Linked DNA regions of Homo sapiens: region 2 is linked to region 1. The links come from fine-mapping of genetic effects on gene expression. A gene starts in region 1. The other region holds a variant in brackets. All regions are shown on one strand. Distances are from middle to middle. Region 1 holds the start of ARSK (arylsulfatase family member K). Region 2 holds the start of GPR150 (G protein-coupled receptor 150).

Region 1 (12,482 bases):
CTAGAACCAGATTCCCTAAATAGGCAGATAAGTAACTTTTTTGCCTAGTTACAATAATTATATAATTTAAAGCACCATATTTCATATGTTCTTGCTTTAGAAACTACTACCTTATCTGAAATTATCTTGGTATATATTTATAGGTGAAAGCTTCAGAATGATTTTTTTGTAGTTTGCAAATCTTGATTGGAGTAGGTAACAAATTTCAATGCTGATTTCACAATTTTCTCAAACCAGTTTCCTTTGGTTAAAAAAAACCCTGCAGACTAAAAAGAAGAAAATAACATCAAGGATGATGACAACTGATCTAGATCAATAAAAAGAGACAAAAAGAGACACTCAAGTAAAAAAATCAAAAGATGTCCAAATTGAAAAGGAACAAAAACAGTCTCAAATTAAAAACAAACAAAAGACCACAACCATTACATAAGGAGGAAGTTCACCATCTCTTCTATCACCCAACATTCATGAGGGTATGTATACAAACAAGGCAGGACCAACCACTACTAAACTACATGCAGCCCCCAAGCTATTTGCTGTGCACGATATAAAAAATATATAAAGAATATAATCTAAATCAAGAGAAAGACTTAAGACATATAAGTCATTCAATAATCAAATGCTAAACTAAGGGTAATGAGTGGAAGTGCAATAGGAATTTAGAGAAGGAAAGGTGTGTGGTGTGATGTTATTAATGGCTTCTATTAATAGAAGATGACAAGACTTAAAAATGGAGTGAAGAAGGAAAATTGCTCTACTCAGAGGCAAATGCATTAGCAAAGTGACAGAAGTGGGAATGAGTTGTGGCAAGTATAGGAAACAGTGAGAAAGCCAGGCTGAATGGATCAGAAGGGACTTATTAAACAGAAGAAAATTAGGTTGGGTAGGTAAATAGAGCCTCAGATTACAGATCCTGAAAGTCAAACAGACAAGTGTGAAGTTAAATACAGCAGCAAATAGGAAGCCATTAGTAATTTTTAAGTAGGTTGTTTTTAAAGACCACTATATAGAAACAAACACCATTTTTCTCTTGGTAATCAATTCTAATATTAAATGTCCTTCAGTATCTGTATGTCTCCATATGTAATTACAATTCTTCATGCTACAATGGAACCCTCTATTCTCTTCCAATTCCTTCTTCATTTGATGCAACATTTAACACAATACGCTAGCACTGAGGTCCTCTCTCACTCATGCATACACACATATATGTACGTAAGTTTCAGAAGTTTAATTTGTAAAAAGACAAAATAATCTGCCCCTTTTCAACCCTAAAAACTACTACTTCCTTTTTTTTTAATTTTTATTTTTATTTTTGAGGGGAAAGGGAAACGTCCATTCACCAATTTTCTAAACAAACCCTTATTGAGATCCAACCATCTACTAGGTACCACTTAAACCCATTTTCCTTCCGAGGGTAAAAACCTACTACCCAAAATGATTCCACGTAACCCCATACTCCTCTATTTTGGATATTTCCCTTCATTGTAAGGATTTCTAACACGTCAAAGAAACATCTAGCTCTCTTGCAAGAGAGGGAGATGTCTTTAATATTCTTCCACAATATAACTCCCTATTAATTCTTTCCGCCTTATACCTCTCCTCCCACTATTCTCCTCAATCTCAACTGTCTTTTTTTAAATAAGAGTATTCATTTTGTACGTTTTCACTCAAGTTTTTCTACTACCAACCCAAAATATTTTTATCCAACATAAATCAAGAATAAAAAGTGGCAACAACTGCACTTAAAAAGAGTTAGAAAGTGACAGTCATGCCATAAAGGCAATGATATTCCTCAAGGACAACATATATAGGTATGATATATATGTCCCCAGTTGAGGCTATGAAACCTTAAATAATATTCCAATATGCTCATACAAAGATTCCACAAAGCTAAAACAACAATAATAATAAATAGTAATGATAATGACAACGGAAGCTAATTACAGAAAGGAAAAAAAACGATATCTTTAAATCTAATAACAAAAGGTATTTTGTAATGACCCATAGTCTGACATTAAAAAAAAAAAAAAAACTATGCCATTAAATCTTTCTTCTGAAAGGAATGAGTAAAAACAATCATTAAGTAAAAATAGATTCCAATTTATTATTTAGCATTGTAGACACTTACCTTTTACCAATTATTACCACCTCTATATTCTTCCCGAATTGAATTTGATTGTTCCTTACCCATTTTCCATCTAAATTAAACAAAAACAAGTATGAGACAATCATATAAAAAGGATGACACCCACAACCCAAAACCTTCTAAACTTTTTAACGCATCAATTTTCATAATTCATAATTTAAAACATGAGAAATAATTATGTATAATTTTTAGTATTTTTATTCTTTCCCAGAGAGACACTATTCTTAATCTCCAAACTTCTGAATTGGTCTAAACTATATTCCTGGGCCTCAGATGATAAAAGGAAACTTCTACAAGAGATCAGAAGGATTTTGAGAAACCATTTCAGAAACCCAAAATACACTGATGTCAATATAAAAAAATAGAGCCAAAGAAGAATATCTACTATTTCTGTGCCATTTTTGCTTTGAATCAAGGACATCTACAGACAACTAAGGGTACTTATTTACACCCAATTTGCAGCCTAATTATATTAGAATAGAACTTTTCTCTAAGGAACATAAGGAGTATAATATAATACAATTATATTAGTTTGTAATCTAATGAAAACAGAGAAATTTTTTTAATGTTAACAATGCATTTAAATAGTCATTAAAAATAGTAACACAACTACACATCTACAAATTCTAAGGATATTTTGATAGCATCCCTGAAGTGGCTTCTGTCAAACAAAAAACAATCTAGAATGGTCCCTGCAGAGAATGGAAGTGGTTTTGAAAAACTGAATAAAGTGAAAAAAAACATGCTACTTCAGAACTAGGAAGTAAACAATGTTTAGGTGAGGCAGGTAGGGATGAACAAGGAATGAAAAGTTTCCCTAACCAAAACACTCATTAGTGATCTACCGAAATAGAAGTGTCACTCCAACAGTAGAAAGTCTTACTGGTAAGAAAAGAAAGTATGGTAATCCAAACAATGTTTAGGAAAGTAAGATAATAGTTAAAAAAGAAAAAAAAGTACAAACTTGACTATTTCACTGGCTTCTTTAGCCCTGCTAACACTTGGCTGCCCTCCTCACCCAATCTAGTTTTATCACTCAGTCACTTCAACTCTGTTCTTACAAAGTACCCTAGATCCTGTCAGCCCCTTTACTCTGTCATATCCACCCACCAAGGCTTACCCTAGTTGAGAGTGAGCTTAGGAAATCAAATGGATCTAGGATCAAAGCCATTAGGCCTTGGGTACATGACTTCATTACTCAAAGCCCATTTCCTCACTGGTAAAGTAAGAATTACATCACTTACCTGATACACACATAGATGGAGTACTTGGACATAATCTATACTAATAATGTCCTATCTACTATTATTCTCTCAATCAACTTTGCTACTTGCCATTCCTAAAACAACTAGTGTGATAACTCAGTGTTAAAAATTTTCCCTACACATTCAAATCCCCAACCGTCCTGCAACCTCCTTCTTCCTTGCTCTCTCAAGAAGTAAACTTCTTACCTATACAAACGGCCCCTGACTTACAAATGGTTGAACTTACAATTTTTTGACTTTACGATGGGCTTATCAGCATATTAAATGCATTTTGACGTACAATATTTTCAAGTTAAAATGGGTTTATCATGGTGTAACCCACCATAAGAAGCATCTGTATTCCTCAAGACAGCTATCATCAAACATGAGTACCCTCTTCATATTAGTTACTACACTACATGAATACTAGAGTACAGCCTACAACAGGGATCACTCCCTCCTCCAAACCTCCAAACTGAGCTACTCAACTGCAACTTAACAAATATTATTTTTATTATCCTATATAGACATAATTCAATTATGTCTCCCAATTCAATAAATTCTTAGACGTAAGTCTTATATTTTCAGAGCTTCTTATATACCCAACACTTACTGGATAATACATATTCAATAAATAGCTAATGATCTTCCAGCTTCCAAGGCTTACCAGTGTTAACAAAAAAATGAGTGACTGAGGGAAGTGTCTCAATCAGTAGATGTTTATTGAGCCACACTTTGAGCACACGCCTGGGGAAAAACAAGCCACAGAAGCATCTGTGACCCACACTTTCCAAAGAGGGCTTTCGGAACTCAGTATTCTAGAGGAGAGCATGCAGGAGTGAAAAATGGCGGGAGGGAAGTAGGCAGTGAGGCAAATGGTTACATTCTCTTGAGTACCTTTTCTGATAGCATAGAATTACTGATTAGCAAAAATGTTGTACGTTCACAAAAGAGTAATCAAAACAATGAGGAAACCTGAAATTATGAGAACTAGCTGAAGAAACTGGGGACTAGGAAAAATAAATAAATGGTGGCGAGGGAGTTGGGGGAAGGACTGTTGAAAGGGAGAGATTATCCATGTAAAAGTGAAGAAAAATGCACTAATGAATGGTTAAAAATAGAGGAAGATTAACTTCAACTTAAAATAGGAACTTTTAATGAGACCTATATAAATGTGGAATGAGGTACTCAATGGAAGTGTTTCCCATCACTGGAGATGAAAAAGCACAGGCTGGACAATCCACTCAGCAGGAATGTTTTAGGATAAACTGAATGTCAGATGGGAAGTAGGACTAGAAGCCTCTTAGATTCTTCCAGCACAACGTCTCTAAGGCTCTAAAATATCTGTCTTGCTCCAAATCACTGCAGCACCTGCTCCTATTGACACTGCCAAGGGGAGAAAGAAGAAAAAGATGTATTCTTGTAAGCCTGTCATCAGAGTACATGTCCTGTGGAAACAAGGCTGTAGAGAGTAAGCACAGTTTATGGAATCAGACACAAAATTAAATATAACTTTTATGAATTTAAATGTCAGTCAATATTGTCACTATGGTAGAAAATACGTTCTACATTCCAAATTAACTCAAAACAAATTTGTTTTTATGAGAGAGCCCACTTGTATTACCTTCCGTGCTGTATTATTATTTCATGTATGCTTGGTTTTGCTTCCCTGAAATCTAAACTCATGTAAACTGAGACTATTGTTTAGGGGTTTTTTTGTTTTTGTTTTTTTTTTGAGATGGAGTTTTGCTCTTGTTGCCCAGGCGGAGTGCAAAGGTGCGATCTCAGCTCACTGCAACCTCCACCTCCTGGGTTCAAGTGATTCTCCTGCCTCAGCCTCCCTAGTAGCTGGGATTACAGGCGCCCGCCACCACGCCCAGTATTTTGCGTATTTTTCGTAGAGACGGGGTTTCACCATGCTGGCCAGGCTGGTCTCGAACCCCTAACCTTCGGTGATCCGCCCGTCTCGGCTTCCCAAAGTGCTGGGATTACAGGCGTGAGCCACCGCGCCCAACACTGTTTACGTTTTTGCATGCTCCCGCAGATCTTTATCATGCTGCTTGAGTAACAATTCTGCTACACTAACAGATAAACTAACTGCAGACAGAGCATTTAGTGAGTTACGGCACAGACTCTTCAATTTTCAGTCGTGCTCTGACTGGCTCCCTGTGTAAACTCAGGCCAGTCATTTAACCTCTCTAAGCCTGTTTTCCTATCTGCAATATGGTGAAAGTGAGGATTATAGAAAATATTCCATATAAAAGTACGTGGCACGCAGCAGATGCTCAGTAAATGCTTAGTATAACGCTCAGCACCTAAGTGCCATGTGAGTATTAAATAAACAAATCTGTTCCTTACTACAATTATCTTAGGCAAAAAAAAACCTGCCAGATATTAGTATTCAGTTGACTTAAGTAAGTAGTATAACTCCTCTTTTAACTGTCAGAATATTAAAACTACTAGTGTGATGTGCAAATTATATACCCGAAACTAGATACAGAAATTGGAATTTGGCTTTGGGACAGAAATCTGCTTCTTCCAGAACTCTCCAAAGGAATTCAACAGTCAAAAGAGACCGGTTTTTATTCTGCAGCAAAACAATGATATTCTGAACCTACGTCAACTAACTGAACATGTCACACAGCCCATTTCCCCCTCCAGTTTCGCTTATCTCCTTTGCTCTCTGAAGGCAAGGAACAGCTATGCTTTCCCCTGCCTACAGCCTGAAACTTCTTACTAGGCCCCGCTCCTCGCCCCATGGGAGCACAGTAAATCCTGACTGCACGGGGTAAGAGAAGCAATAAGATGAGACAGGCTAGAGATTTCCCTGGGAAGGTATTCGGGGGGGTCTAAGGCATTCACGGCGCACCTGAGGCGGTCCACCCAGAGGCCCCACAAGGCACCGCCCTATTCAACTTAAGTGACAGCCGCGCCGCCACCTCATCGCCGCCCAGTTCACGCTCTCGCCGAACACTCAGCCACGCTTGCGCGGCCCAAAATGAACAGCCCCGGCCCCGATCCTTTCTTTCTCTAAGTACCATTTCAATCGCCTTTAGGATCCCTTGTGCAAAACCGACAGAAATCCAAACCCACCTGGAGCAGATGCTCCTCTTCTACAAACGCCGAGGCTGCAATGAGAGCGCATGCGCCTTTCCCAGGACTCATTCACGTGACTGGAAGTGGCTGGGTTCTGATTTGCTCGGTATTTGATTAAAAGGTCTTAACGTGGGTAAAAGCGGGAATTTCTCTGTTGCGCATGTGCGCGCTCTCCGCCTGATAGGAGTTGTAGTTCTGCGGGTGAAGCTCGGCGTTACTATCAAGCAACCAAACTGCAAGCTTTGGGAGTTGTTCGCTGTCCCTGCCCTGCTCTGCTAGGGAGAGAACGCCAGAGGGAGGCGGCTGGCCCGGCGGCAGGCTCTCAGAACCGCTACCGGCGATGCTACTGCTGTGGGTGTCGGTGGTCGCAGCCTTGGCGCTGGCGGTACTGGCCCCCGGAGCAGGGGAGCAGAGGCGGAGAGCAGCCAAAGCGCCCAATGTGGTGCTGGTCGTGAGCGACTCCTTCGTAAGTACCGCGAGGCAGGGGAGGGGCGCCCCGCTGGGGATCGGCGACCTCACCGCCGCCGCCTGTGCTGCAGGCTTTGGGGAGCAGAACCTGAGACATTTTCAAACACCTTTTACCCCGATGCAAAGAAAGAAATACATTTTATGTGAGGCCCCGTGTACTCACACGTACACCACATACCTATGCAAACATGTAAAACAATAGTGAAACACTGAAAACATCTTTGCAGATCTTTTTTTTTTAATACTGACCTCGATTCGCTAAATTATTTTACCACGACTAATGAACTTTCAGTCCATACCCCCGTTTGGTTTAATTGTGTGGTAAAATAACATTCTGCATCTCCATAAAAGCGTGTTAGCTTTCCAAAAGTCATTTTCCAGTTCACCTCAAGTTTGCAGGAATTCATGTTTGGGTGAGAAGTGAAGAAAGTTTATTTTTATTACCCAGGTCTGTGATAATCCTGTTAGTGCTGATTCAAATGGAATCGTTGGTATAACTTGATTCACTCCCCCGTATTCCAGAGAAATTGTGTGTATGTGTGTGTGTTGGTAATGTGGCTGAATCCCAAACTTAAACAGTTTTTGAAACTTTCCCAAGCCAAAGGTGCTACTGTCAACCTTACGCGATGCTTTTAGGATGATCCATGTTTTAAAAAGTGCTGCTTAGACAATTGTTTGGTTATTAATTGTAATATTAGTTTATTATCACTCGGTGTTACTGTGGTCACACAGATGTTGGTGTTAAGCATATCTGGCACTAAAGAGTGTTTGTAATCATATGTTGTATTTCCTTTCTCGTAGATTCCTGATGATTAAAATTACATAGTCTGGATGTGCCCATGGGATTTTTTGAAAATATTACTTAAAGTTATCTTTGTGATTTAAACTTAGAGAATGGGCAGTACTGGAAATTGACTAGATGGCATTTTATTACAGAGTGCTCTTGTAATCAAAGGCAAATGAAGGAAGCAGGATTGTGCAGAGGAGAAGCTGAATTTTGTTGCCATCTTATGAATGACAGTTCTCAAACTAGTATGGTGCTTCAGAGCTGCTTTCCAATAGGAGTGAGGAGAACAGACCTTTCCACCTGCATGTTGGATGGCCACTGGTTGTGGGCTGCTCCTAGAATGGGGCATGGTGTTGGGCAAAGCAGCTGTCTTCAGCAGAGGCAATTGTTCATTCCTAAAAGGGAATCCGAATGTGGATCACAACATCCCAGAAACTTCCAAAGATGACTGAGATATATAGGTTTGTTATTTTTTTTAGTGTAGTATGAATGCATAGATTTTTCTATATTTGTGCTTAAATTTTTTGCATTCACGGCCGGGCGCGGTGGCTCACGCCTGTAATCCCAGCACTTTGGGAGGCCGAGGTGGGCGGATCACGAGGTCAAGAGATCAAGACCATCCTGGCTAACACAGTGAAACCCCGTCTCTACTAAAAATACAAAAAAATTAGCCGGGCGTGGTTTCGGGCGCCTGTAGTCCCAGCTACTCGGGAGGCTGAAGCAGGAGAATGGCGTGAACCTGGGAGGCGGAGCTTGCAGTGACCTGATATCGCACCACTGCACTCCAGCCTGGGCGACGGAGCGAGAGTCCGTCTCGAAAAAAAAATAAAAATAAAAATAAAAAAATTTTTAAAAAATAAAAAATAAAAAAAATTTTTGCATTCACATACTTGTTAATATTCAAACTGTCCTATCTTTGGCCAGTGGAAGCCCCTTCAGGTGGTTCTGAGTCCTTTTGACCCATCCCCATTAGTATTTGACAGCTTGCTTTAACAGAGTTCCATGTCCACAATACATATTTCCTGTCCCATCTTGTATTTAGAGACCACAGTCTGAGTGTTAGGGTGTTCATTGCATCTAGACCTTTCCAGTGGACAAATCTAGAAAGTATATAATATTTTAGAATGAGAAAAATAAATTGTGAGATCATACTGATACTTTCCATTCAAATTTAAGATTACAAGTTTATTCTTTGATTTTTATACTTATATCTTTTTTGTTTTATGCCAAATATTTTGGTCTAAATGCATTAATGCAATTACTTATTTGCTTTATCCAAACATATAATATGTATATATCAATGTGTTTGAAAATAAGACTGTAATATTACTAGAAATAATGCTAGTCCTGAGTGCAGCTTACAGTTTCTTTGAAGTTTTTGTTTTAGGTATATTCAACTATATAGTAAAAATGTTGGTCTTTAAACTTAAAATAATTCCTCTCTCTATGATTATACCAGTTTGGTATGCTGTTAGATTCTTGACACTGTGATTTATCATTTCTAAAACTCTGCAGGCTAAGATAGAGCAGTTAAGCTGGATAATAATTGTAGGAAGAAAATAGCAAATTGGTTTTACTTTCAGGATAACAACGCAAGAGCTTTGTAGATCAACTCCCAAGAAAACAAGCAAACCAAATGAAAACTCTTTTTTAAACTATACATAAAAACTATTAAATATTTGAAACACTTAAAGTGTCTGGAAACTGTCCTAAGGTCATACACCAAATGAAGAAACATTTATTCAAGAAAATCTATGAAAACTTGGTAAGAATAGCAAGAAGGGTCTGTGGCAGTGAACTATAGTTTTGACAGAGGTTTCACTCAGGTGGGTGTGGCCAAGAAGATAGGACTACTCCCCCTCGGCTCCCAATCACCAGTTATGGTATCTCACCAAAAGGGACAGGCTGTGAGATTTCTCATCTTCTCCTAATCCAAGTTGGAGAGGTTAAATTCCTAATGAATGCAGCTGAGAAGTTGAGGGCTCCCTTACTTCAGTCAGCCCCCACTTACAGGACAGAGGCTTTATGCCAAGTGCGGAAAGTTGAGAATCCTAGGGCCCTAATTGCCCTGGCCCTAGCTCTCTAGTAGGACAGAGGTTCCATACCAGGAGAGACAAGCTGAGAAGACCAAACAAGCTTCTGCAAAGCAAGCAGAATGGAGGAAATAATAAGGATTAGGGCAGAAATTAAAGAAACAGAGGATGGAAAAATAGTAGAGAAAATCAATGAGACCAAAAATTGGTTCTTAGACAAAATCAGCAAAATTGACAAACCTTAGCTATACTGAACAAGAAAAAAGACAAAAGAGCTAGATGACTAAAATCATGAAAGAGAATGGTTACATTATCTTAAGAAATAAAAGAATTACAAGGGAATACTTACATACAACAACTGTATGTCATCAAATTAGATAAATGAAATGGACAAATTGCTAGGAAGGCAGAAACTACTGAAACTGACTCAAGAAGAAATAGGCAATCTGAATAGACCTATAAGAAGTAAAGAGGGTAAACTGGTAATTTTAAAACTACCAACAAAGAGAAGCACAGACCCAAACGGTTTCACTGATAAATTCTACCAAATACTTAAAGAATAATTAATACTAATTCTTCATCTACTCTTCCAAAAATTAGGAGAGAACACTTCCAAACTATAAGACCAGTTTGGCCGGGCGCGGTGGCTCACACCTGTAATCCCAGCACTTTGGGAGACCGAGGTGGGTGGATCACCTGAGATCAGGAGTTCGAGACCAGCCTGGCCAACATGGCGAAACCCTGTCTCTACTAAAAATACAAAAATTAGCCAGGCGTGGTGGCAGGCACCTGTAATCCCAGCTACTCGGGAGGCTGAGGCAGGGAGAATTGCTTGAACCCAGGAGGCAGAGGTTGCAGTGAGCCGAGACGTGCCATTGCACTCCAGCATGGACAAAAGAGCAAGACTCCATCTCAAAAAACAAAAACAAAAAAACAGTTCATGCCTGATTCCAAAGCCACGAATACATCACAAGGAAAGAAACCCACAGACCAGTATCCCTTAGGAATATAAGAGCAAAGATCCTCAACAAAATGGATTTGGCCCTCCATATTCACAGGTTCTGAATCCGCAGATTCCACCAATCTCAGATAAAAATATATGGTATTTATGGGATGTGGAACTCACAGAACTTGACTTTTCCTATCCATGGGTTCCACAGGGCTGACTGTGGGACTTGAGCCCGCAAAGATTTGGTATCCTTGGGAGGTCCTGGAAACAATCCCCTGCAGATACCAAGGGACAAATGTACTAGGAAACCAAATTCATTAGTATGTAAGAAGGATTATTCACCATTACCAAGTGGAATTTGTCCCCAAAATGTACAGTGAGTTTAATATCTGAAAATCAATTAATGTAATACATCATGTTGACTGAATAAAGGACAAAACCCATGTGATCATCTCAATAGATGCAGAAAAAGCATTTGAGAAGATTTGACAATCCTTATGCATTCAACTGGCTAGAAATAGAAGGGAACTAAAAGGCATCTACAAAAAAAGCCAGAACTTTACACTGAATGGTTAAAAGAAAAAAAAAATCAGTTTTCTGACTAAGATCAGGAAGAAGACAAGGATGTGTGTTCTCACCACTGCTATACAGCATTGTACTGGGGGTTCTAGCCACAGAATTAGAAAAAAGATTAAATAAAAGGCATTCACATTGGAAAGGAAGAAGTAAAAGTATCTATACTTGCAGTAATCTTGTATGTAGGATTCTACGGCTCCACTACAAAACTATTGAACTAATAAATTAGTAAGGCTGTATACCAGATCAGTGTACAAAAATAAATTGTATTTTATATACTTAATTGATTAACACACTTATAGTCAAATTAAGAAAACAGTTCCATTTAAAGTAACATCAGAATGGATGAAATACTTAAAATAAATCTAATCAAGGAAATATAGTTCTTATACTCCGAAAACTACAAAACATTGTTGAAAGAAATAAAAGAACATTTAAATAAATGAACAGACATCCCCTTTTCATGGATCAGAAGATTTAATATTGTTAATATAGCAGTACTCACCAAAATGATCTACAGATTCAATTCAATGCCTGTCAAAATCCCTAGAACCTTTTTTTTTTTCTGCAGAGATGGAAAAACCCATCCTAAAATTCATATGGTAATTCAAGGGACCCAGAATAGCCAAAAATAAATCTTGAAATAAAAAGAACAAAGTTGAAAGACATACACCTCCCAATTTTAAAGCTTATATCTTAACTACACCAATCAATGTAGTATGTTATTGGCTTAAGGATAGGTGACATACAGATCAATGGAATAGGATCTAAAGTCCAGAAATAAACTCTCATATTTATAGTAAATTGATTTTTTAACAAGGGTGCCAAGACCATTTAATAGGGAAAGAATGATCTTTTAAACAAATGGTGCTGGAAAAAAAAAATATGAATGAAGTTGGACCCTGCCTTGCACCATACACAAACACACAAAAAAAAACTTTAAGTAAATTGATTGATTAATCAAATGTAAAACTAAAAAACTCTTACAAGAAAACATAGGTGTAAGTCTTTGTGATTGTGGATTAGGCAATTAAAAGATGGGCAAAAGATCTTTTTTTTTTTTTTTTTTTTGAAATGGAGTCTCGCTCTGTCACCCAGGCCGGAGTGCAGTGGCGCAATCTCGGCTTACTGCAACTTCTGCCTCCCAGGTTCAAGCCATTCTCCTGCCTCAGTCTCCTGA
Region 2 (12,482 bases), 70 kb after region 1:
CACTTCACTCCAGCCTGGGCAACAGAGTGAGACCCTGTCTCAAAAAGGGAAAAAAAAAAAAAAAAAAGAATTTGTTGAAAATCAATGTTTTATCAGATCTTACTAAAGTTCTGTGAAATTTCACTATAGTCATTTTGAAATGCTAATATATAAGAGCATTTCAACAAATTTGAGACAAATGATAGACTATCTTGAGAAACACTGAAATGATACTGGCTAGGAAAATCACTGAATGATGAACATTGCTCAGAGAAGGCTCCCTGGAAGAAGTGCATTATAAACTGGGATGATGTGTGTGCATAGAAAAAGGCCTTGGATAAAAAGTTCTAAAGGGAGAGTATGAAAATCAAACCAGGATTTTAGATTTTCCAAGGCTATCACTCTAGCTTTCTTAAATGTCCCACCAGGAACACTTATTCCTATGTCTCCACAGAGCTTCCTTGGGCTCCTCTGGACAATACTGGCATAGTATAAAAGGAATTTTTTCTTAGGTGATGGATTTATAGTCAAGGCAGGCATTTATGCTCGAAGGTATCTGAAAAGCATCGTATATCCACTAATTCATCAACTCAACACATACCCACTGATAACTACAACCTGTCAGACCAGAGCGAGGCACCACAGAGATGATGATGAAAATAACCAAGGTTTCTGGCCAAAGGACAACAGCTTGGGAAATGGGATTCCTACAGCAGCTGGCAGGACTATCATGGAACCCACCAAATCTTCCTAGGCCATGAATCTTAAAGTTCCAAATGTTTCCTCAGATTGGGAATGTGAACCCTAGACAACACTCATACCTCCCTGGCCCCCAGGCCAGGAAGTACAGGAAATTCTACTTTCACCATGATTAACGTGGAGGGTGCATAAAAAGACAAATGGATGCTTCCAACAGGGAAACTAAAATGTGTTTGTGAGGAGACAAGGCTAAAATGAAAGCAGCAACATTTAATCTAAACCATTTCCTGTGACTTGGATTTCTTTTTTAAAAAAATTGGCCGCCTTATCACTTTCTTAGTCACCTTTTCTCTAGGCTTATTGGAGGCGTAGCCCCTCCTAGCAACTTCCCATCTGCTGGAAAACAGAATCAAGAGAATGAGGAGTGTGATGACGCATCCTTCACTGGATGAAAATATTAGGAGAAAAGCAATAAATGCACTACCATTTGCATAAAACCTATTAATGCCCTCTTCAGACTAATGAAATGAATTTTACATCACCAAGAAAGCAGCTGTGACCCACTGCTCCTAGTATTTGGAACGATCTGCAACACTGCCACTCCTAAAAGCAACATCATTGACTTTAGTACCCTCTAATTAAAATACTTTCATTCTTGGACAGAGAAGACACATCTTGATCAAAATTCAGCTAATAGGTCTCCTCTTTGCTCAAAACGCTGTTAGGTTTCTTGTGTTCCTGTTTTTCTCATGCTCGTGCAGATCCATGGCATTTCAAACCTTTAAAATAAAAACTAATGTCTTTTCTATTTTTTTCCTACTGGCAATCACATTGGGGTGGTGGGGGCGTGTGGTACAATCTCAGTCAAGAGGTCCTCTCTTGTGTGGGTGCTGGCATAACACTGGCCGTATACAATGGCCAAGCAAAGCGACATTCTGTCCTGCTGTGCTTTACACGTAAATAGAGAATGGATGAGGTTCTCAGCGCCCAGGGGTCCGCGGCTTCCGCGAGGGTAGCGTCGGGGGCCGCTGCAGAGATTGGAAGAGTACCCGCCGGGAATGGGAGGGAAGACGCGGGGAAGGTGGAGAATAGGAATCATGTGTGTTCCTCGAGTGTACAACCCACATTTGAGTGACAAATCACGAGGACAATCGACAAAAACAACTAAGCGCAAAGCCGCCCGAATCCATCTCCCTCTCTGTGCGTGTGCCTTTTCAACTAACTTTGGGAACTCGTATAGACCCAGCGTCGCTCCCCGCGCCGCCTCGCCTCCACTTTGGTTTCCCGCGTCCTGCCCGCCCTCTTCGGTGCCTCCTCTTCCTCCGGGACAAGGATGGAGGATCTCTTTAGCCCCTCAATTCTGCCGCCGGCGCCCAACATTTCCGTGCCCATCTTGCTGGGCTGGGGTCTCAACCTGACCTTGGGGCAAGGAGCCCCTGCCTCTGGGCCGCCCAGCCGCCGCGTCCGCCTGGTGTTCCTGGGGGTCATCCTGGTGGTGGCGGTGGCAGGCAACACCACAGTGCTGTGCCGCCTGTGCGGCGGCGGCGGGCCCTGGGCGGGCCCCAAGCGTCGCAAGATGGACTTCCTGCTGGTGCAGCTGGCCCTGGCGGACCTGTACGCGTGCGGGGGCACGGCGCTGTCACAGCTGGCCTGGGAACTGCTGGGCGAGCCCCGCGCGGCCACGGGGGACCTGGCGTGCCGCTTCCTGCAGCTGCTGCAGGCATCCGGGCGGGGCGCCTCGGCCCACCTCGTGGTGCTCATCGCCCTCGAGCGCCGGCGCGCGGTGCGTCTTCCGCACGGCCGGCCGCTGCCCGCGCGTGCCCTCGCCGCCCTGGGCTGGCTGCTGGCACTGCTGCTGGCGCTGCCCCCGGCCTTCGTGGTGCGCGGGGACTCCCCCTCGCCGCTGCCGCCGCCGCCGCCGCCAACGTCCCTGCAGCCAGGCGCGCCCCCGGCCGCCCGCGCCTGGCCGGGGGAGCGTCGCTGCCACGGGATCTTCGCGCCCCTGCCGCGCTGGCACCTGCAGGTCTACGCGTTCTACGAGGCCGTCGCGGGCTTCGTCGCGCCTGTTACGGTCCTGGGCGTCGCTTGCGGCCACCTACTCTCCGTCTGGTGGCGGCACCGGCCGCAGGCCCCCGCGGCTGCAGCGCCCTGGTCGGCGAGCCCAGGTCGAGCCCCTGCGCCCAGCGCGCTGCCCCGCGCCAAGGTGCAGAGCCTGAAGATGAGCCTGCTGCTGGCGCTGCTGTTCGTGGGCTGCGAGCTGCCCTACTTTGCCGCCCGGCTGGCGGCCGCGTGGTCGTCCGGGCCCGCGGGAGACTGGGAGGGAGAGGGCCTGTCGGCGGCGCTGCGCGTGGTGGCGATGGCCAACAGCGCTCTCAATCCCTTCGTCTACCTCTTCTTCCAGGCGGGCGACTGCCGGCTCCGGCGACAGCTGCGGAAGCGGCTGGGCTCTCTGTGCTGCGCGCCGCAGGGAGGCGCGGAGGACGAGGAGGGGCCCCGGGGCCACCAGGCGCTCTACCGCCAACGCTGGCCCCACCCTCATTATCACCATGCTCGGCGGGAACCGCTGGACGAGGGCGGCTTGCGCCCACCCCCTCCGCGCCCCAGACCCCTGCCTTGCTCCTGCGAAAGTGCCTTCTAGGTGCTTGGTGGTCAGAGACGGGTCATCTGTCGCTAAGGCGCAACCTCCAGGGAACTCGAGGCCTGCCAGGGTCTGTCCAGATCACAAGGGGCAGGAGAGTCTGTGAGAGAGTGACACTGAAGTTGTCCCCTTCCTCCACTCTCCTATTCCCTTCTCATGTTTACATTTCCCTATGCTCTTCCAGTTTCTCTTCTTCCCTACAGTTCCTCTCATATCTCCCCATTTGGAGACAGTGAGCCACTGGAAAGTTGTAAAAACAAAAACAGTTATTTTTGCAGTTTTCTTTCACGCATTTATAGTGCTCTGGATAATGCCATTTATTTTTGCTGATTACCCAACTTTCAGTATTTGCTGTGTTATCATCTGTATTTACTTATTTTGAATCGTGCTTAAATCAAATGTACCTTCAGCACCTGCAAGTTTGCCTTTTCTTTCCAGGAGGAAAATCCCCACGTTGCTCTCCCTGGGGAGTCTGAGAATTATACCAGTGCTGTCAGAAATGTAATCATGCTGTCATTTCAGAGCCACAGAGTATTTATAAAATAAAAACCTTTCCCACGGAGCAATTGGGACTTTTTTTTTTTTAACATAGTAATGTATTTTCTCAGAAGAAAATCAGCGTGGCCTTTATTTCCAGTCTAGTTTCCACTTCAACAGAAGCTGAGGTTGTAGGAAGGAAACAAAAGCTTGACTTGGTGTCTTTCAAATATACTTGGTTTCTGTTGGAAATCGTCCCTGTGCCCCCAGCAGCCTCTAAAGGTGTAATGCTATGCCCAGATGGAGCCTCTCCGTACAAAGTCCCCAGCAAACCAGAGAAAGGAAGCTTCAAGGTGGTGCATATGGGTGGGGCTCAGTGTCCCAGATGGAGCCTCAAAGAGATTTGCAGCTAGGAAGGAAGTCAAAACCTCAGAATGCTGCATGTGTATATAAAACTCCCTTGTTAAAAAAATGAATTCAATGCCTGTTGGTGTGGATAGCTGAGAACAAGGTCAAGAGCGGATTTGATCAGTAACCTCTTCCTCTCAACTGTTCTTGGTTCTAGACAGAAGTGGCAGCACTTATGAACAATATATCCATGGGTTTATCAGTGATTTTTGTATGAGGATCTAAAGCTTTCCATTATAGTGTTTCTTGTTCATGCACAAATGCAGACCTAAGATGCAGAAAGGGGAAATGATTGTTTAAAGCTCTTTGTAGAGCCAATGCTGAGGGCTGTTTTGTTCACTAATATATTCCAAATGCTTAAACAATGCTTGACATGTAGTAGGCTCTCAATATATATTTGTTGAACAATTCATCATGTGAGTTAGAGATAGAACAAATAAAAGATATACGAAAGAAAATCTTTACTAAGCTTTCTTTACCTTCCTCCAAAATTTTGACAGCAGATGTTCCAGAGTTGTAGCTTTTCCTTCCTCTCTTTGTTCCTCCTTACCCTGTTGAGGATGCAATGGTCTGCAAAATACCAGGAATAAATCAGCCAAAGAGAGGATACAGTTGTCTTCATGAACCCAAGTCTAGATTATACCATTATTTATTCATTAATAAACATTTATTACCTGCTTATTTTGTGCCAGTTAATAAGCTAGGCATTGGAGATGCTGAGATGAATAAGTCACATTTTTCCCTCAAAGACGTTATAGTCAAATGTAGGAAACAATCTGACAATTACACTGCAGTGTCACCTGTGTTATAACAGGGGAATTCAGTCAGGGTGCCAGAAGAACTGAAGAGGAGAATCTGACAATCTTGGGGGACTATGAGGGGACATTAGGAAAGACTCACCAAAAGAAGCTCTTGAAGGCTGGTTTGGGGGTGACCCTTCAGGTCAGGAAAGGTGTTCTAGGCAACGGGAATAGCACTGCAAAGCATAGAAGAGACAGAACATAGCATAGTCAAGTAATGACAATAGCTTTAGGGTGCCTTTGGGGCCTGACCTAATGAGATACGTGGTCAGAGAAATTCAGCCTGGCCCCAGTGAAGACAGGTCTGTGTGCCAAGCCAAGAAAGCAAAAAGTAGCCTTTGAAGAATTTAATCAGTTATAATTTGACCCAATTTCAATTTTAGAAAGGTCATCTCAATGATGGCATGAAGGATCACCAAATGGAAGGGTAGGGGGGAATTCTTAGATGAGAAATCAAGGCAGAATCTCAGAGAGTCTTCAGAATACGATTCCTAATGTTGGACCACTTCGAATGCGCTCAAGAGAGATAATAAATTTAAAGCAGCTGAGACAGGTTTTCTGTTTTCTGCAGTTAAGACTACCCTAACAGAAAAGCTTACTCAGCTGGCTTCAACTTATTATTTCACATGACAAGAAGTCTGGTGGTAGGGCTGTGCCAGGGTTGGTTAAGTAAGTAGCTCAACTTCATAATCAAGGGCTGTGACGGTTAATTT[T/C]ATGTGTCAACTTGACTGGGTTAAGGGATGCTCAGATAGCTGGTAAAACATCATTTCTGGGTGTGCCTGTGAGGGTGTTTCCAGAAGAAATTAACATTCAAATCGTAGACTGAGTGAAGAAGATCAATCCTCACCAGAGGTGGCAAGCATCATCCCATCTGTTGAGGGCCCACCCAAATAGAACAAAAAGACAAAGGAAATGTGAATCCTCTCTCTCTCTTCTTGGGCTGCGACACCCATCTTCTCTTGTCCTTGGACAGTTCACTTCTGTTCTTGGGCCTTCAAACTCCAGGATTTATACCAGCAGCACAAACCCCCACAGCCCCCATTCTCAGGCCTTCAGACTCAGACTAAATTTTACCACCAGCTTTCCTGGTTCTCCAGCTTGCAGACAGTATATGGTAGGACTTTTGGGCCTTCATGGTCACGTGAGCCAATTCCCGTAATACATCTCCTCTTATATATCTATATAAATGCTATTGGTTCTGTTTTTCTGGAGCAGCCTCACTCATACAAGGGCTCAGATCCTTTTCCTCTTTCCAGTCTGCCATCTTGAGTGGTGGACTTGACACTCAGGCCAGTTCCCCTTGAGGTCACAAAATGGCTGCTGCAATTCCAGGCATCACATTCAAATGTAACAATGTCCAGAAGAAGAAGGATTTCTCTTTTTTGTACCCTTTATAGAAATGAAACAACATGTCTCAGAAGTCCCCAGTAGACTCTCCTAAATGGCTCATTTGCCAGAACTATATCACATGTCCATATTTAGACCTATCATTGCAAGAGAAATGGGGCCACCATGATTGGCTTGAACATGGAACTGAGCATATGAATTGTATTGAGGGAGGGATGAAAAAACTGAGGCTCTACAGTAAAGAAAGAAGAGGAAATGCTAGTTAAAAAGGCAAGAATAAAACTTTTAAACTATTGCAAAAGTGTTATCTAGATTGGTTTTTACAATACAACAGGGGTATTCAGCTCATTGTTACCTAGAAATTTTGAGAATTCTTCATCTGGGTTGGAAATATAGAATACCAACTCAAGAAGTTAATTTGAAATCCGATTAAACTGATGTTTTCCTAGATTTTGTAGATTTAGTTAAGCCCAATTTATACGGAAATGCTTCTCTTCTTTAAGCAAGGAATTTCCTCTAATTTTAACCATATCTGAAACTTGAATACATAACTAGATGACTTGGTTCCCATCCCTGGAGGCATTTGTAGGTTAGGAAATTTGAGATATTTCCTCAGGATGGCCATCCTATTTGTGTTGACCCTAATCTGCATTTCTAGAGGCAACACAGAGATTCAGCTGTGTCCTAGTCAAGGAGGCCCCTGAAGGTTATTCAGATTTAGACTCTTGCTAGAGTAGAACATAATATTCACATCACACAGCAAAGGCAAATACACAGGTTGACCCCGAAATTGCTCTCTTTTCTAGGTTATCACCCAAATAGGAAACGACTAGAAGAGAAACCAGATCTACACACTTGCAGTTTGGAAGAAATCAAAGTTGCCCTATAAAATAGAGACAAACCATTCCTCTATTCTCTACATTTTTTGGAGTTAGATTTTAACCAAACTACTGCACACAGGACTTCAGGGAGCACTTTTCATATTGATGAAGATGTGAACATCACCAGCAGAACTGAGCAATGTGGTGGTCCTGATTTTATAGAACTTTAAAGACTAAATGCAAAGAATTCTACATCTTAAAGAAAAACCTCAGTAACATAAGGCCAAAATAAGTAAATGTGACTTATGTTGTAATTTGAAATGCAAAGAATGCAGAAAACATCCAGGAGTAATAAACCACACTAGTGATTAGTTATAAACAATATTCAAAAAATAGAATAGTCTGGCTTATCTTGTGGAAGACAGATTTAAAGCATTTTTTTCTAAGGTATGTCCTAAGAAACACAGAAGATGTTAGAAAATTTGAGGAGTTTGCCTTCTATTCCTAAAAATGTTCTGACTTGATCAAAGGGAAAATATTCTAATAAAAATGAATTGTTCTTCTTAAATTAAAATATATTTTGCTGAGTTGGGAGGCAATATAATATTATGAAAAGAGTAGAATATTCAGAGTCTAAAGACCTGAACTTGACTTTCATCTGTACAGTTAGTAGCTGTGTGACTTCAGGCGGTTTGCTGAATATTTTTGAGTCTTGGTTTTCTCATCAAGAAAATAGGAGTTAATACTATGTCCTTCATAGGATAATGTACGCAAAATATTTGATTGGGTGGAGGTAAGGGGAATCTAGGTTTGTTTCTTCAGATTCCCTCAATACATGATAGCTAATGTTATTTTCTAATACTGGCTATGAGGGATAAAAATCCAATTGAATAATATTACATGAAGGAAAGCAATAGATCTTGGAGAATTGTCATGGAAAATTAATGCAGCAATGGTAGTACTTAAAAGTAGGGAGTTGGGCCTTACAGAAGGAGTAGTGGGCATTGTTCATTGCCTTCCTAGCATTTATTTCTCCTTTTCTGACAGTTCTCAGATTCTTATTAGAATGTCTATACCTTTTATAAAAAGTCAGCACTTTGAGGAAACCTCGGTGCTCTCCAACTCCAAGACTGTGACTTGATTAGTCCATGCCACTGGAGTAATTTCTCATCCCTCTCGCCACCATATCTCGCTCAGGAATGGTCATGGGATGCAATGAGAGTGAGGGAAGTTTTTTAGGGAATCTAGGAAGGAATCTTTTAACTCTTCTGGGAAAGCCATAGAAGTTAGCATGTTCAATGTCTGTTCACACTAAAGGTAAATGAGGGAGCATGTAACCCTAATGGCTGCTGGCAGCCACTTCTCACCAAGAGGGAAGCCAGCCACAAGAGTAAGTCAACATTGTGGATATGGCAAAGTGGAGAGATGAAAAGAACTTAGGTCCTTAATGAACTCACTGTGCTGACAAGACCAAACGCTACTGAGGCCTGGCTATTGGATGTCCTAGGAAATAAGCCAATACAATTTCTTATTGCTTAAAGCAGTTGAGTTGAATTTTTTGTTATTTGTAGCACAAAGCAATCTCTAACTGAAGTAGAAGTTTGGCAAGAAAAAGAGAGTCCCATTTTAGCCTATTGCATAATGGCTTATGTTCTTTATCAAAAAATAGGAATATTCCAAGTATACTTTTATTTAGTCCATCAACCAGTATGTACTGAGGCACTGCATTGGACATTGCATTGGGCACAATGGGACAAATCCGAGAAAATCCGTTACAACTCTCACATTTTAAAAGCTATGTATTCTACAAAGAACCATAATTTTTATGATAAGCATTTTGTTGAGAAACCTCAACCTACAGTTATTATTATTTTTATTTTTAGAGACAGGGTCTCACTCTGTCACTCAGGCTGGAGTGTGGTGGGGCAATCACATAACACTTCAGTCTTGAACTCCTGGGCTCAGGCAATGCTTCAACCTCAGCCTCCTGAGTACCTGGGATTGCAAGTGTGAGCCACTGTGCCTGGCTTCAACCTACAATTATTAATGTTACAGAATATTATTTGCAAACTCTTTCTATTGCTAATTTTATTAATTAACTCATTCAATTATTTGATACTTATAAAGATTCATTCTATGCAAAGCACTATATGACCTTTATTACATACATAGATATATATCACTTATCACAGATACATGTTTCATTTAAAAGTAGCTTTTGAGTGAAAACTTAGGACCAACTATTGCTATTATGCTGCCCTTTTCCATGGCCAGATTGGAAAGTGACAATAATAAAATGTGATGGGGTAGTGTATTAGTTCATTCTCTTACCACTGTAAAGAAATACCTGAAGCTTGGTAATTTATAAAGAAAGAGGTTTAATTGGCTCACAGTTCTACAGGCTGTACAGGGAGCACAGTGGGGAGACCACAGGAAACTTACAATCTGCTCCTGGGGAGACCTCATGAAACTTACAATCGTGGAGGAAGGCAAAGGAGAAGTAGGCACATCTTACATGACTGGAGCACGAGCAAGAGAGAGAGTAGGGGAGGTGCTGCACACTTTTAAACAACCAGATCTCATGAGAACTCATTCACTACACAGTACCAATGGGGGATGGTACTAAACCATTCATGAGAACTCTGCCCCCATGGTCCAATAACCTCGCAGCAGGCCCTACCTTCAACATTGGGAAATACAATTCAACATGAGATTTGGTGGGAACACAGATCCAAACCATATCATTCCACCTCTCGCCCCTCCAAATCTTATGTCATTCTCACATTGCAAAATATAATCATGCCTTCCCAACAGTCCCCCAAAGTTTTAACTCATTCAAGCATTAACTCAGAAGTCCAAAGTTTCATCTGAGATAAGGCAAGTTCCTTCTTCCTATGAGCCTATAAAATCAAAAACGAGTTAATTACTAGCAAGATACAATAGTGGTAAAAGCACTGGGTAAATATTTCCCTTCCAAAAGGGAGAGATCAGCCAAAAGAAAGGGGCTACAAGCCCCATGCAAGTCCAAAACCCAGCAGGGCTGTCATTACATCTTAAAGCTCCAAAATAATCTCCTTTGACTGACTCCATGTCCCACATCCAGAGCACATTGATGCCAGGGATGGGCTCCCAAGGCCTTGGGCAGCTCTGCCTCTGTGGCTTTTCAGGATTCAGCCCCTGCAGCTGTTCTTAAGGGCTGGCATTGAGTGTCTGTGGCTTCTCTGGGCACAGAGTACAAGCAGTCAGTTGCTTTACCATCCTGGGGTCTGGAGGATGGTGGCCCTCTTCTCAAAGCTCCATTAGCAGTGCCCCACTGGGGACTGCGTGGAGGCTCCAACCCCACATTTCCCCTCTGTACTTCCTTAGTAGAGGTTCTCAGTAAGGGCTCTGCCCCTGCAGCAGGTTTCTTCTTGGACATCCAGGCTTCTCCATACACGGTCTGAAATCTAGGCAGAGGCTCCCAAGCCTCAACTCTTGCATTCTGTGCACTCACAGGGTTAATACCATGTGGAAGCCACCAAGGCTTACAGCTTGCACCCTCTGAAGCAGCAGCCTGAGCTGTGTCTGGGCCCCTTTTAGCCATGACTAGAGCTGGGGCAGCTGGGATGCAGGGAGTAGTGTCCTTAGGCTGTGCAGGGCAGGGGGACCCTGAACCTGGCCCAGGAATTCATTCAGTCCTCCTCGGCCTCTGGGCCTGTAATGGGAAGGGCTGCCACAAGATCTGAAATGCCTTTGAGGCCTTTCCCCTATTGTCTTGGCTATCAGCACTTGCCTTCCTTTTAGTTATGCAAATTTCTGCAGGCTGCTTGAATTCCTCCCCTGAAAATGGGCTTTTCTTTTCTATCACATGGCCAGGCTACAAATTCTCCAAACTTTTACACTCTGCTTCCCTTTTGAATATAAGGTCCAGTTTCAGGTCATTTATTTGCTCATACATATAAGCACAGGTTGTTAAAAGCAGCAAGGTCACATTTCTAAGCTGCTTAGAAATTTCTTCCACTAGATACCCTAAATCATTACTCTCAAGTTAGAAGTTTCACTGCTCCATCGGGAAGGGGCACAATGCCTCCAAGTTTTTTGCTAAAGCATAACAAAAGTAACCTTTGCTCCAGTTCCCAATAGGTTCCTCATTTCCATCTGAGGTCTCTTCAGCCTGGACTTCATTGTCCATATTACTATCAGCACTTTGGTCACAAAAGTCACTAGGAAGTTCCAAATTTTCCTTCATCTTCCTGTCTTCTTCTGAGCCCTCCAAACTGTTTCAATCTCTGCCCATTACCCAGTTCCAAAGCTGTTTCCACATTTTCAGGTATCTTTATAGCAATCCCCGACTCATGATACCAATTTTCTGTACTAGTCCATTCTTGCACTGCTATAAAGAAACACCTGAGGCCGGGCATGGTGGCTCACACCTATAATCCCAGCACTTTGGGAAGCCGAGGTGGGCGGATCACCTGAGGTCGGGAGTTTGAGACCAGCCTGACCAACATAGAGAAACCCCAACTCTACTAAAATACAAAATTAGCCGGGCGTGGTGGCACATGCCTGTAATCTCAGCTACTTGGGAGGCTGAGGCAGAAGAATTGCTTGAACCCAGAAGGCAGAGGTTGCAGTGAGCAGAGATTGTGCCGTTGCACTCCAGCCTGGGCAACAAGAGCAAAACTCCGTCTCAAAAAAAAGAAAAGAAATACCTGAGACTGGGTAGTTTATAAAGAAAAGAGGTTTAATTGGCTTATGGTTCTGCAGGCTGTACAGGGAGCACAGTGACTTCTTTTCTGGGGAGGCCTCAGGAAACTTACAATCATGGCAGGAGGTGAAGGAGAAGCAGTCACATTTTACATGGCTGGAGCCGGAGCAAGAGAGAGAGTGGGGAGGTGCTGCACACTTAAACAACTAGATCTTGTGAGAAATCACACACTATACAATACCAAGGGGGATGGCTTTAAACCATTCATAAGAACTCCACCTCCATGATCCGATCACCTCCCACAAGGCCCCACCTTCAACACTGGGGAATATAATTCAATGTGAGATTTGGTGGGGGCACAGATCCAAACCATATTAGGTAGATTATTACAGTAATGGCCCCCAATGAATAACTCCTCCTAATACCCACTCTTGGGTAATCTTTCCTCACACGTAGTCTGAATTTGGTCATGTGACCTTCTTTGGCCAATGGGGCATTGTGTACAGATGTTTCACAAGTAGGAACTCAATAAACATTTATACATGACAGCTTGCCCTTTCAGAAAAGCTGATGTGACATTGTCATGCTATGAAGACCATGTGGAAACAGAGGCCTAACCACTCAGC

What was found. PIP is the estimated chance that this variant, and not a neighbour inherited with it, causes the effect.
Region 2: its variant is fine-mapped to the expression of ARSK in sun-exposed skin (GTEx, PIP 0.97).

Annotation. Positions count from the first base shown.
Region 1 is chr5:95,548,450-95,560,931 of GRCh38, forward strand. It overlaps ARSK (arylsulfatase family member K), which reads left to right and starts at 6,652. Exons shown (of 8, transcript NM_198150.3): 1 at 6,652-6,955. The coding sequence starts at 6,830. SKIC3 (SKI3 subunit of superkiller complex) reads right to left here and starts at 6,528. Exons shown (of 43, transcript NM_014639.4): 1 at 6,487-6,528; 2 at 2,132-2,201; 3 at 111-266.
Region 2 is chr5:95,618,265-95,630,746 of GRCh38, forward strand. GPR150 (G protein-coupled receptor 150) reads left to right here and starts at 1,823. Exons shown (of 1, transcript NM_199243.3): 1 at 1,823-3,878. The coding sequence starts at 2,012. The coding sequence ends at 3,316. LOC112267933 (a long non-coding RNA gene) reads right to left here. Exons shown (of 3, transcript XR_002956221.2): 2 at 5,102-5,177; 3 at 4,589-4,771. RefSeq lists enhancers at 1,379-1,994, 3,191-3,690 and silencers at 2,164-2,563, 2,654-2,703, 2,721-3,015, 2,724-3,173, 3,394-3,453. The variant T/C (reference allele first, on the strand shown) is at 5,715.